Homo sapiens: one gene and its partners. The protein of the gene in region 1 purifies or fractionates together with the protein of each later gene. This does not show direct contact. Each region holds a gene or a part of one and is shown in the gene's direction. Other genes may lie near its edges.

Region 1 (5,137 bases):
CTTTTTCTTTTTTTTGAGACATATTCTCTCACTCTGTCACCTGGGCTGGAGTGCAGTGGCGTGATCATGGCTCACTGCAGCCACAACTTCCTGGGCTCAGGTGATTCTCTTGTCTCAGCCTCCTGAGTAGTTGGGACTACAGGCGTGCACCACCACACCCAGCTTTTTTTTTTTTTTTTGTAGCGATGGGCTTTTGCCATGTTGCCCAGGCTGGCCTTGAACTCCTGGCCTCAGGCAATCTTCTTGCATCAGCCTCCCAAAGTGCTGGGATTACAGGTGTGTCCTGCTGTGCCTGGCTCAGTCTTTATGCCTTTGCACACACTTCCCCTGCCCAACTCCCTCTTTATTGTCTGATTACTTCCTCGTCTTCCTTTAGGAGCCAGCTCAGGTATGACCTGAGAATTAGGTTTCAGAATCACCCTTTACCCTTCAGTGTTGATTTACTGCTCCAGCTTTCTGTTCACATAATACTATGTGCTTTACTCTTACTCTCACACTGTTTTGTAGTCCTGTCTTCACTAGTCTTTTCCATTAAAGACTGAGTTTCATGAAGGCAGAAACTGTCTCCCTCTCTGTATCCCTAGTTCAGTATGCCCAATAAATGTTTGATGAATGAGGCCAGGCACGGTGGCCCACGCCTGTAATCCCAGCACTTTGGGGGGCAGAGGTGGGCAGATCACAAGGTCAGGAGATCAAGACCATCCTGGTTAACATGGTGAAATCCTGTCTCTACTAAAAATGCAAAAAATTAGCCAGGTGTGGTGGCATGCGCCTGTAGTCCCATCTACTCGGGAGGCTGAGGCAGGAGAATCGCTTGAACTTGGGAGGCGGAGGTTGCAGTGAGCCGAGATTGCGCCACTGCACCCCAGCCTGGGCGAGAGAGCGAGATTGTCTCAAAAAAAAAAAAAAAAAAAAAGTTTGATGAATGGATGAAAGCTGGTATCAGAAGCTATTTCTTAACTTTGGGAAATCTTTAAGTCTAGTCGAAATAGTTCAGATATCATCTAGGAGTTCTTATGTTCTGATTTCAGTGCTCTTGAGACAAAAACTTGGAGTTTACACAGGTCACGAGCCAGCTGCACCAAGAAAACTCAGTACGGGCGTACTCTGCTTTTGTTTCTTTAAATTGTATTGGTCTGTTTGGTTAGCTGTGCTAAAAATAGCATCTCTTAGTGATATTTCAATTTGAAAATTATCTAAGAACAAAGCTGTTTTTACTGCACTCTGCCTGGCAGCAGAGGGTTTGGGAGACCCTGGTCTTCCTTCCCCTGGACGCTGAAGAGGAGGAGGTAGTGCCAGATCAGGAGTCCCCTCAGAGGTGTCTCATAGCACATTCTTGGATCATTCACTGGAATCAGGTAGAGGGAGTATGTGTGGCCGACTGGGATGTGTGACTCTCAAAAGCACCTGGAGATTGAGGCAGGCACGTTCCTGCAACATATGTAAGGAAAGATGGCTGAGTAGCCAGTTACAGCAACAGCCTGCTTCTCCTGGGGGGATGAGGTGGGAGCAGTGAGTTGTCCTCAAGTGAGGATATCCTTAGATGAGGCTTAAATCAACTGATGTGCTTAACTGAATTCCTACAGTGTCCCACACAGATTGTACTAGAGCACATATTTGGGTTCCTATTGTTATTTTTACCTGTGATAATAAAGTTTCTGACTGTAAAACAGAACCTGCAGATATCTTTTTAACAGAGATGTTAGTATATTCCATTTTTCATCTTGAGCCACTCACTTTCAGTCTTAACTGCTTATTCTTGGTATCCAACAGCCAATGGAACCCTGGCATTTTGCCCTATAAACACAGGAGTACCATCTGTGGTGAAAGAGAGTAACTATAGGCTATATAATACATGGAGAAACAATTCATGGTTTGTTTGCTTTGCCATTCTGCTTCCTAGTGCTTTTTTAGGAATGTATTGTGAAAGTGAGAATAGGCTGTATAGCCAGAGATTTGTATTCATGGCACAAAGCAGAAAGCTGCTACCATCTTGGTGGTAGGGCAGCATGCTCTCTGGTATTAGCAAGGGACAGGGAAAACCAAGACAAGAAAGCCAGCATCCCCTTTGAAATGCTCATTTAAGTCAAGCTCCAGATTATACTTAAAGAAAAGTCATGGCCAGACGTGGTGGGTCGTGCCTGTAATCCCAGCACTTCAGGAGGCCAAGGCAGGTGGATTGCTTGAGGCCAGGAGTTTGAGACCAGCCTGGCCAGCATGGCAAAACCCCGTCTCTACTAAAAATATAAAAATTAGCAAGGCATGGTGGCACATGCCTGTAATCCCAGCTACTCGGGAGGCTGAGGCACAAGAATCACTTGAACTTGGGAGGCAGAAGTTGCAGTGAGCAACCTCTGCCTCTGCACTCCAGCCTGGGTGACAGAGCGAGACTGTCTCAAAAAAAATAAATAAATAAAGAGGAGGAGTCATAACATCCATTAGTTTCAAGGTCCTGGGCTGTGCCAGGGAGATACATGATAGCTACTGGATATTTATTTTTTGAGATGGAGTCTCAGTGTTACACAGGCTGGAGTGCAGTGGCGTGATCTCGGCTCACTGCAACCTCTGCTTCCTGGGTTCAAGCGATTCTCCTGCCTGAGCCTCTGGAGTAGCTGGTGCTACAAGCATGTACCACCACGCCCAGCTAATTTTTTTTTTTGAGACAGAGTCTTGCTGTTGTCTGCCCGGGCTGGAGTGTGATGGCATGATATCGACTCGCTGCAACCTCCACCTCCCAGGTTCCAGCAATTCTCCTGCCTCAGCCTCCCGAGTAGCCACCACACCCGGCTAATTTTTTTGTATTTTTAGCAGAGACAGGGTTTCACTGTATTAGCCAGGATGGTCTCGATCTCCTGACCTCGTGTTCCGCCCGCCTTGGCCTCCCAGAGTGCTGGGATTACAGGTGTGAGCCACCGCACCCGGCCAATTTTTGGGTTTTTAATAGAGACGGGGTTTCACCATGTTGGCCAGGCTGGTCTCGAACTCCTGACCTCAGGTGATCCACCCACCTCAGCCTCCCAAAGTGCTGGGATTACAGGCGTGAGCCACTGTGCCCGGCCTTTTTTTTTTTTTTTTTTTTTTAAGACAGAGTCTTCCTCTGTCAACCAGGCTGGAGTGCCAGCGGCATGATCTCAGCTCACTGTAACCTCTGCCTCCTGGATTCCAGCGGTTCTCCTGCCTCGGCTTCCTGAGTACAGGCGCGCACCACCATGCCCAGCTAATTTTTATATTTTTAATAGAGATGGGGCTTCACCATGTTGGCCAGGCTGGTGTCAAACTCCCAGCCTCAGGTGATACGCCCACCTCAGCCTCCCAAAGTGCTGGGATTACAGGCATGAGCCACCATGCCTGGCCAGCTATTTAGATATTTTATCAGTTATTCATCAGTCCCACTGTATATTAAATGGCAAGAGAGAATCCCACCAATTCTAGTCTTCTAGTCCTTTTATGTTGTTCCCAAACCAGTCCTGCGTCAAATATGTGTGGAAAATGGCTGAGAATGGACAGGATAGCTAAGCAACTCGCTGTGCATTACACAGAGATACCAAATCCTACTGGACAGAAGAAATAATATAAGGACATCCTCAGATGAGGCTTAAATCAGCCAATGTGCTTAATTGAACTCCCACAATCTACTTGGCACTAGAGGGAGGACAGATTCAAAATAAGTAGACATAGTCTTTGCACATAGGGAATACACAGCTTAACGTGGGAAGCAGTAAATACACAGACTTATAAAAGAAGAAAAACTCGACAAGGTAGTAAGTGCCACATTGAGTGGTTAAGGTCATTCAAAGTAAGGCCTTGATGTGGCATGCCAGGAAATAATAGGTGTAACACTGGGATCAGCTTTTGAACCAGGACTTCAGCATGACAGCCGAGCAAAGAAGCAAATCAAAGGACAGTGTACCTGTGTTCTGGGGCAAGGCATATTGGCTAGTTATATCTTTTTCAGCCACCACTATACTCACAGTTGGTAAGCATTTAATCAGCAATAGTTTCAGTCATAAAGGACAGCAAGATAAATGTGTGGCATAAATTTAATTCAGAATCTGGGCCAAAGCCTGATACCAAACCTTTAAAGCAAAGTGTCATCTGGAGCTGAAGGAAAGGCTGCCTGAGCAAGAGGCAGAATAAAGGCTAGAAGACTAGGAAGACTTGGGAAAGGTTTAAATTTCATGAGGTGTTAGTAGTATGACCAAAAGTCACTACTACAAATTGCCAAGGTTGGTGAGAGCTGTTCTTAGCTGGGTAGGTCGCTCAGGGGTCCTCAGGAGTCTGTCCACCTGGGTGGGTTGAGGCAGGAAGAGTAGGGAGGAAGGCTAGCGGGTGGCTTGACTGAAGTTGAACCCTAAGGTTGAGCTAGCCCTTCTTCCTGGTGTGTGAACCCTCTAGGTCAGGGGTAGGGCTCATCTGGGGAACCTACTGAGAGTGCCACGCCTGGCTCATTAGTGGCTGTCTGGGGAGGCCTTTTGAAGATGAAACACTTCATAAGCACTCATTGTTTCTGTTTTTTCGGACAAACTAGTACTTTGGTCTTCAGGGACTGTTGATCTGGCTCAGTTGCACTAGTCTGGAATTTGCTGCAAACTGAGAAGGGTGGTGGGGGAAATGTCAGAAGTTTTTGTAAAAACAACCAAACTCCCACCAAACCCCCATGCGTTAGCTTGTAAATAGGATTCCTCCCCGTCCACCTTTCACATTCTTGGGTTTGGGCGCACTTTGTCTTGACCTGTCCCTTTGGCTGCTGAGTTTGGGGTGTGTGTGTGTCTCTGGTTCCCAGACTCTAGAGAATGCCAGCAGCTGGCATATGGTGATTGCTGAATAAGCTGCCCGCTGACACATGCCTCCTGCAGGCACAGAGAACTGGTTTGTATGGGTGATTCTGAATCCTCATTTTATTATTGTTTCAAAGATGCATTTCTGTGGCTATCCTGTGCCATAGAGAAGAGAGGGAAGAAGAAAGGGAATGAATGAATGAATCTGATTCTGTCTGTTGGGGCAATGGCTGGGGTGAGCAGATAGACATTTTATACCTTCATAATGATTCTTTTGGTCCTGTTCATCCTTTCAGCAGGTATTTGTTGTTGTTATTACTATTATTATTATTATTTTGAGATGGATTCTCGCCCTGTCA
Region 2 (4,413 bases), on another chromosome or scaffold:
GTTGTGCACATGTACCCTAGAACTTACAGTATAAAAAAAGAAATGTTGCAAGACCACATATTTTTTTCATTTCTTTCTGGGACAGGATTAGAGGATCTGGAAGTCTCTGAAGCCCTTGGGGGATGGGGGTGGGAAAGTCAGGGGAGGGAGAGAGACAGTGCCAGGCTGGGGGTAGTAGAGCTTCGCGGTGGGGGACAGAGCCCAGGTCAGCCTGCCACCACCTTCAGATCCTGGCTTGCATTTACCGTCTGCGCAACTTTAGGCAAGTTATCAAACTTCTCTGTCCCTCAGTTTCCTCCCAAGGATAATAACAGTGCCTACCACATCAAGTGAATTAAAACACTAGAGCGTTGAGAACAGTGCCTGCACATGGGGGTGCTCTATTAATGTTAGCTGCTTGCCAAGCACTCTGTGTGACCTTTGGCAATTCATTGGCTTTCTGTCTTTAATTTCCACAAGATGGATACATTTAAAAATTAAAAAGCAACCCAAAAACTTAGCTAGGCATGGTGGCTCTTGCCTGTAGTTCCAGCTACACGGGCAGCTGAGTAGGAGGATCTCTTGGGCTCAAGAGTTCGAGGCTGCGGTGAGCTATGATCACGCCACTGCACTTCAGCCTGGGTGACACGGCAAGACCCTGCCAGGCAGTGTAGAAGAGGAAAACCTTCCTGAATTCAAAGTTAGGCCCCCCCTCCGCTGGCTCAGGTAGTTCAGACCATGAACAATCATTGATACCTTGTAGGCGAACTCCAGCTAGGCAGTCAGCTCCATGGGAAAGAAGACCTCTACTCCCAGCAGGGCCTGAGGTATAGTAGGAGCTCAATGAATTCTTGTTGAATGAATAAATCAATTTAGTACTGTGAGCTGGATGGAGATGCATGATAATAGATTTCCTCATCCAACATTCCCAAATATTTGGGGATTTTCTACTTGTTCTTTTATTAATGGTTTATAGCTGAATTCTGTTGTAGTCAAACAACATATTCTGCATAATATCATTGTATCTTAATATCTTAATATGTTTGTATCATTATATGTTCCATGTGTCCCTGGAGCATAGCTGCCTTCTGCAGTTGCTGAGTACAGTTTATAGAAACTTGTGAATTAGGTTAAGTTTGTTAATTATGTCATTCACATCTTCAACCCCAGGATTTTTCTGTGTCTTCTATCCGTTACTGACAGAGGTGTGTAAAAATCTCCCACTCTGATTATGAATTTGTCTATTTTTTCCTTTTAGTTCTATCAATATTTCTTTTATATATATTGAAGCTATGCACGTACGTTTAGAAGAGTTACATTATCCTGGTGGATTGACTTTCATTATCGTAAACTGTCCCTTTTTGTCTCTGGTAATGTTTCTTGTGTTAAGGTCAGCTTGATCGTACAAGTTTCCCTCTGGTTAATGTACGCATGGTATATCTGTTTCCATCCTTTTACATTAAGCCTCTGTGTCTCTTCTAAGAAATATAAAGCTGGATTGGGCTGGGCGTGGTGGCTCACACCTGTAATCCCAGCACTTTGGGAGGCTGAGGCGGATGGATCACTTGAGGTCAGGGGTTTGAGACCAGCCTGGCCAACATGGTGAAACCCCATCTCTACTCAAAATACAAAAATTGGCCAGGCGTGGTGGTACATGCCTGGAATCCCAGCTACTCGAGGGGCTAAGGCAGGAGAATCGCTTGAACCCAGGAGGCAGTGGTTGCAGTGAGCTGAGATCGCGCCACTGCACACTCCAGCCTGGGCAACAGAGCAAGACTCCATCTCAAAAAAAAAAAAGAAAAAGAAATGTAAAGCTGAATTGTTTTGTTATATTCGTTCTGATGATCTTTGTCTTTTAATTGGAGTATTTATTTTATCTAATGTAATTACTGATATATTGGAGTTTAAACCCACCATCTAATATTTTTTCTATTTGTAACAATTGTTTTATGTTACTTTTTATTTGTTTTATTGCTTCAATTTTGGATTAATCAAGTATTTTTTAATTCTACCATTTCTCCCCCAAACCCCCTTATTAACCTGTTAGTTGTACTTTTCTTTCAGTATATGGTTCTTACAATGATTCCTATAAAGATTACAACATGCATTTATTAGACTTGCTAAAGTCTAATAGACAATAGTACTTTTACCACTTCCCAGACAACACAAGAACCTCAAACCACTTGAGCTCCATTTAATGCCTTCCTGCCTTTCGTGCTGCGCTTGCCATGCATTTTTTTTTTTTTTTTTTTTTTTTTTTTTTTTTTGAGACAGACTCTCACTCTTTCGCCCAGGCTGGAGTGCAGTGGCGTGACCTCGGCTCACTGCAACCTCCACCTCCTGGGTTCACGCCATTCTCCTGCCTCAGCCTCCCGAGTAGCTGGGACTACAGGTGCCCGCCACCATGCCCGGCTAATTTTTTGTATTTTTAGTAGAGACGGGGTTTCACCGTGTTAGCCGGGATGGGCTTGATCTCCTGACCTTGTGATCCGCCCGCCTCAGCCTCCCAAAGTGCTGGGATTACAGGCGTGAGCCACTGCACCCAGCCAGTTGCCATGCATTTTAATCATACATGTATTTTAAACCCCACAGGACATTCTTCCTGTTTTACACACTCGATCTTCATTGAGATTTACCTACATCATTTCCTACTTCATACTCTTCATTCCTTCCTACGCCTCCTTACTGACATCTGGGATGATTTTTCCTTTTGCCTGAAGAATTCCCTGTAGTATTTCCGTCTTGTGGGTATTCTGGTGACAGACTCGCTCCTCTTTTGTTTATCTGGGATGTCCTTATTTTACCTTCGTTCTCTTCACTGGGCACAGATTCTAGGCAGACTTATTTTTTTCCGCCCTTTGAAAATGTTGCGCTGTTGAAGTCTTGTCTCCTTATTTGTGTTGAGGGGACCAGCTGTTAGTCTTTCTGCTGCTCTTTCTAAGGTAACTCAGCTCCTCTACCCTGTGTTTAAGATTTTTCTTTCTATCTTGTCTTCTCTGCAGTTGGATTTCGATGTGCCCAGATGTGGTTTTCCTTGTAAACTATACTGTGTGGGCTTGATGTCTTTTGTCATTCTGGAAAATTCTAGGCCATTATTTCTTCCATTATTTCCTCTGCACATCCTTTCTCTCCTCTTCTTTGGGATTCCATTTATGGGAATGTCAGACCTTCCTATGCCCTGGCTTCTAGAGTGCAGCTCTTCAGGAATGCATCTGAGAGCCTGGAGCTGTTTAACAGGTCCCTTTGTCCTTGGCAGGTTCTGAACTCCCGGTCTCCCCAGTCCCTGGAGGCTGCCTGCAGCTTTGCTTAGCTTCTCAGCCTGTTGATCACTGCCGTGGAATTGGCGAGTATCTTCCGGGGGAAAGCAGAGACAAAAGTGAGCCTCACCTCAATGCCCTTCCCATCTCTCTGGATTCTTGGTTCCTTCAGTCCTTGGTGCCTCGGTAGCTTTCTCGTGTCTTCGAACATATGTTTTTAATATTTTACCTTCCTTTTCTAGTTGTTCTTGGCAGGTAGCTTTATCTACTGCAAGGTAGCCTGATACATCCAGAGGCAGATGTGTTGCTGAGCAGAAATGACAAAGAGGTGGTTTCTGTCCCTTGGGCCTGAGGGTCCGGTGGCAGAGCCAGACATGACAACAATGTAAAGCACCAGCAAAATGTGATGTCAAAGGGAAGCAGAAATACATTCAATCTGATAGGAGGACCTAGGAAGGTCTCTGTGAAGAACAGGAAGGATTGCACCAGGTGCCATTTGGAGGGGAGGGGAGGGGATGGAGGCGCGTTGTTCTAGGTGTCAAAAGCTGAAGCTGGTATAGGCTGATATGATGGGATGTGTGCCATGGGCAGGGCTGGGGTGAGAGAAGGGAGACACCGTCGTGGGAACCGAAGCAGGGAAGGTAGGCACGTGCCACACATAAAGGCTTTTGTATCCAAGCTGAACCAGGACTTTTTATATGGGATGGCACATTGGGAGTGACCCATTCTGGCTTTGCTTGCAGTAACTGTGCAACTCTGGCAAAATCTCTAACCCTCTCTGGTTCTTGATTTTGTTGTAAAATAAGAATCCTAATAATACCTGCCTCTTCTACTCCCCAAGGTTCTTGTGAGGCATAGGTAAGCTTGAGGATGCAGATGTGCTTTGATGGGAATGATGAGTGGCCAGGACCCTGATTCCCTTCAGAGCCACACTACTAGGGGGTCAGGCTGTGCGTTGGTCCGTTGGTCAGGAGCTATCACAGGAACCCTCCATCACTTTCTGGCCTTGTTTGTTAGTCACAGGATGAGCATGGCTGGCTCTCCGGTGACATCAGAAAGCTTTCCAAAATCCTCAGTTCTGACTGTCCCCCAGGCTCTAACATCTCCACCCCAGCATCCTCTTCGGGGCACTGAGCACTGCTGGTCACCCAACAGACATGGAACTGCCTCACTCCAA
Region 3 (4,413 bases), on another chromosome or scaffold:
GACAGCAAAACTGTGGTTCTTGGCCACAGTTAGGGAGACCAGACGGGAAGGAGAGAGTATGCACTGTGGAAGAGGTTCATCCTGTCTGAACAAGGGAGAAATCTAGGAAGACTTCCAGGAGGAGGTGACATTTAAGCCAGGCCTCAAAAGATCGGGGGAGCTTTGTAGCAACTGTTTAGTGGTGGGACTTGTATACTAGGCTTTGAGCAAGAGAACTTTTATTTCAGATAAAATCCTAGAAGGATTCCTCATATAACAGGGATCCCTGTAGCACCGTGAAGATTGAGGCAGGAAAGGGACTGGGAATGCTGCAAATGGAGACATACACCTCAGAGACTGAGTTGGCACAGAATCCATGGGACTTGATGATGAGGGAGAGGGAGGTGACAAGCCTGATGCCCAGCTTCCCCATGAAGGGGAGAAGTAGGGTGTGGACGTGCAAATGGAGTATTAGCTGCTGCTGCAGAGCTACTGGCCCTTCCAGGCCCAGCTTCATGTCTCCAGCACCAGCCCTTCATTAGTTCTCAAAAGGGCGTGAGTTGGCTGCAGGCTCTGCTGGGAGCAGGATGATCTAGGGTGGCCCCAGCTGTGCCAGCTTGTCTTTGCTCCATCAATCTCTCATCCTCCAGCAGGCTGGCCTGGGTGCGTCCTCATGGCAGCCCCAGGGCTTTGAGAGAGTGGAGGTCACAGGGCCACTCACAGCCTAGGTCCTGGACTTTACCACGTTCTGTTAGCCAAAGCAGGTCCCAAGTCCAGCACAGAGAAGTGCAGGCCACCTGGGGTGAGCTGCAGAGCCACACCACAAAGGACCTGGGTGCGGGGAGGGGACTGGGCTGCTCTGCCAGGCCATCTACACACACGGCAGTTCCCTTTGGCCACACGGCAGTAGAGGCAGCTGTGGACATACAAAGTGTAGATAGCTGGGCTCAGGATCGAGTCTCGCCCACCATCAGCAGGCGAGGGCTCATCAGAGCCCTGGAAGGGACAAAATAGCAGGGTTGTGTTCACCATGGAACAGCTGGCTGAGGAGGAGGGTGGACCCCTGGGAAACTGAGGAACAGCTGCCAGAGAAGGCGAGGGAGAACAAGTGAGCTCGAGAGTGAAGGCGGGGAGGACGGGCGCTTGGGGTGCAGGGAGGGCCCCCAGCGTGACTCTGCCAGCCAGGCGGTGGGGGGGGCGGGGGGGTGGGAGTGAGAGGGCACTGAGGGAGTGGGCTGGTCAGGCTGATCTGATGTCTGGCCAGGGAGGAGCCCCAGGCCTCTGTGTCAGGCACTGGGACTGCAGGGCACCAGGGCTGCCCACTGGCTGCCAGCCTCTGCCCTGCACTGCGCTGTCCTGGCCTACTCATCCTGCCCCCTTCCAATTCTTGTTAAGGAACCCACTTTGGAGACAAGCAGTGACTGAAGAGCAGGCAGAGGCTGCTACACCACAGTGTCCTGTCTCAACCTTTCCCCACTCAGGCCCTGGGGCCAACCTGTCAGTGAGTGCCCAGGTTCCCCAGGTGCAGGCACCAGGTCAGGAGCCAGATCACTGAGGACTGGCCTTGCCCAGTGACTCCCGCCCCGTGCCCCATGTGGGGTGGTGCTGGGGCAGTGCTGAGGGAGCCAGTTTGGAAGTGGCGACCTCCTACCCTCAACTTCCCTTGGTGGGAGTGCCCGCAGCTACCCAGGCGTGCCAGGGGCAGGCCTGGGATTTTAGCCTAGTGTCTTTGGAATATCTAGTTCAGCCCCAGAACCACATCTGGCTTGCCTGAGCCAAGGGAAGGGGAACAGCCGTGGCACATCTCTAGCTGCTGGCCCTGAATGGCAGTTTCCAGGTCCGTGGCACTCCAGCTTCTGGAGACAAGGGCAGATCGCCTCAGAGAGGCCTGCTACCACCCAGCCCTGCCCTCAGGGCTGCAGAGCTGTCCCTGCCCTGCCTTCTGGCCACCACCCTGTCATGATGCCATTGCACAGAGCCACCTCCAGTGTGAACAGGAAGATTGTGTTGGAGAGAGCACCAGCCTCCAGCTACTTTTGGGTCTGGGGTTTGTTCAGAACAGTGGCTGGTGAGGCTTTGGGGGAGGGGAGCCGAGAAGGGGACTAGAGACTGGGGGGTCCCTGGGGGAAAAGCCAGCTTCTCCCTAGGTGGCAGTAGGCAGGGGAGTGGAGACTCCCTGAGATAGCAACACCTCCTGGGCCTAGGTGGGCATAAGCACTGGCCATGCTTGGTTGTCCTCTCTGCCCCTGCCTCCTGCGCCCACTGCATGCCACACATGTGCAGGGTGGTTTATTTTTAAATTTTATTTTATTTTATATTTTATTTTATTATTTTATTTTATTTTATTTTATTTTATTATTTTATTTTATTTTATTTTATTTTATTTTATTTTATTTTATTTCATCTCAGACAGGGCCTGGCTGTGTTGCCCAGGCAGGGGTGCAGTGGTACAATCACAGCTCACTGCAACCTCCGCCTCCCAGGCTCAAGTGATCCTCCCGCCCCAGCCTCTCGAGTAGCTGGGACTACAGGCATGCGCCACCATGCTGGCTAATTTTTGTATTTTTGATAGAGATGAGGTTTTGCCATGTTGCCCAGGCTGGTCTTGAACTCCTGGGCTCAAGCGATTCATTCACCTCATCCTCCCAAAGTGCTGGGATTACAGACATGAGCCACTGCTGCTGCCAAGATGGTTTCTATACACTCCCATCCTCAATCTCCATGATAGGCATACAGTAGGTGGCATAATGCCCATTTTACAGATGTGGAGACTGAGGCTCAGAGAAGTAGCAGATGCTCAAATCCAGGCTTGCAACACCACTACCAGTCCGTCCACAGGGGTTCATGACATGCTCACTGGAAGTTAGTGAGCTCTTCCAGGGGCTGGGCATACATCCAGGGAAGAAGACAGAGCTGGTGCCCTCTGGGAGCTTGCCTGCCAGTGGGGAAGAAACAAGGAGCAAGACAAGATCACACAGGCCAGTCTCTTAGGAGGCAGTGACAAGTGTGGCTGGCAGAGTAAGGCGGGAGGGAGGGAGGGACTGAGGGACTGCCTCAAGTGAGGAGGGGCGGCACGTGGAACTCAGGGGGAAAAGCTCTCCGCGGAGGAGGTGAGGTGAGTCAAGACTGCCAGGCCAGGGGCCGCACCCGCGCCGTGGAGTGGAGTGGAGTGTGGAGGGTTTTGTGCAGAATCTGATTAACTCTTTGAAAAGAGCCCCTGCAGTCTGGAGCCTCGCGGGCAGTGCGGCTCCCCTCCTGGCTGCAGACAAAACCCCACAGCTGTGGGGCCCCCACCCTGTCCTAACCACCGAAACTTCTCTTTGGTCACAGGTTGCATATTCATCGAAGAGAACTTTTCTTTGAAATGTCCCAAACATAAGGTAGGGGACCACAGTGTTTTGTAGGGCGAGGGGTGTCAAGCGGGAGAGGAGCCCCACCTCGCACCTCCTTCACAGTCCCCTGGGCCCCCTTGGCTGCGCAGCCCCGCAGGGCCCAGCCCTAGGGGAGGGAGCTCTCCCCGCCCACCCCCAGGAGCCCCCGCCGCCGTCCAGCTCAGGTCCCTGTCCACTTGCGCGCCGCCGCCGCCGAAAACCCGCAGGCGTCGGGGCATGGGCAGCCAGGGGCTGGAGGGCGTCCCTGGGACGGCCTCCCTGCAGCTCCCCAAGATAGGTGACAGAGTGGGGCAGGCGGGGGCGCGGGACGGTGGCACGGAGCTGAAGGCGAAGGTGAAGGTGAAGCTGGACGGGGTGGGGCCAGAAGGGGTGGTGCCGACGGCCTCGGGCGGAGACCCCAGCCGCGCTCTGGGGTCGCCTGGGTCTGGGGCTTAGGCGGGGGGCCCACACTGGGGGCGGGGCCTATGGACTGTGAAGTCCGAGGTCGTCGGTAACTGGCGGGCGGGCGTCTTTTGCAGAGGCTGCCGTAGTAATCCACCCCAACGGCCGGAGGAGCCGCCGGAGCCCGCCTGCCCGCCCGCCGCCGAAGGAGAGGAGCCGCCTGCGCAGCCCCCGGGCCTTTGAGCTGCTCCCAGCGCTGGTCCAGAGCCGATCCTTGATCCGGGTCCCGGATCGTGGATCCGGCCGCCTAGGGCTCAGACTTGCGGCCCCGGGTTGGGAGGAAAACCCGTTCCGGAGCCGCCTGCTCCCGGAACCGGACGGCACAGGGCGTTCTTGCCCACCCCAGGGGCCAGGCTTGCGGAGGGGGAGCCCGCGGAGCGGCCAGACTCCCCGGGGCGCTCAGCCTCCGGCGAGGGTGGGAGACGGCTTTGTCCTGGGGACACTTTCCCTCTGGAATCTCAAGACGACGTGGCACACATTCCACGTGGGTGCTGCCGCCACCCCAGTCGGTCGTGGCGTGCAGCTGGGAGCCCTGGGCTTGGGGGTGGGGGTCGAAACAGTACTGGAAGAGGCGGAGGGCGGCTCCTAGCTCCGTGGACTA

What was found.
Region 2: the proteins of ARF3 (region 1) and LOXL2 purify together in Homo sapiens (co-immunoprecipitation; one study listed by IntAct). This does not show direct contact.
Region 3: the proteins of ARF3 (region 1) and RAI1 purify together in Homo sapiens (affinity purification with mass spectrometry; one large-scale study listed by BioGRID and IntAct). This does not show direct contact.

The regions. Positions count from the first base shown.
Region 1 is NC_000012.12:48,943,085-48,948,221, reverse strand, and holds part of ARF3 (ADP-ribosylation factor 3), read left to right. Parts: intron 1-5,137.
Region 2 is NC_000008.11:23,369,585-23,373,997, reverse strand, and holds part of LOXL2 (lysyl oxidase homolog 2 precursor), read left to right. Parts: intron 1-4,413. UniProt on the Homo sapiens protein: Mediates the post-translational oxidative deamination of lysine residues on target proteins leading to the formation of deaminated lysine (allysine).
Region 3 is NC_000017.11:17,806,081-17,810,493, forward strand, and holds part of RAI1 (retinoic acid-induced protein 1), read left to right. Parts: intron 1-3,309; coding exon 3,310-3,359; intron 3,360-3,889; coding exon 3,890-3,901; 3' UTR 3,902-4,413. UniProt on the Homo sapiens protein: Transcriptional regulator of the circadian clock components: CLOCK, BMAL1, BMAL2, PER1/3, CRY1/2, NR1D1/2 and RORA/C. Positively regulates the transcriptional activity of CLOCK a core component of the circadian clock.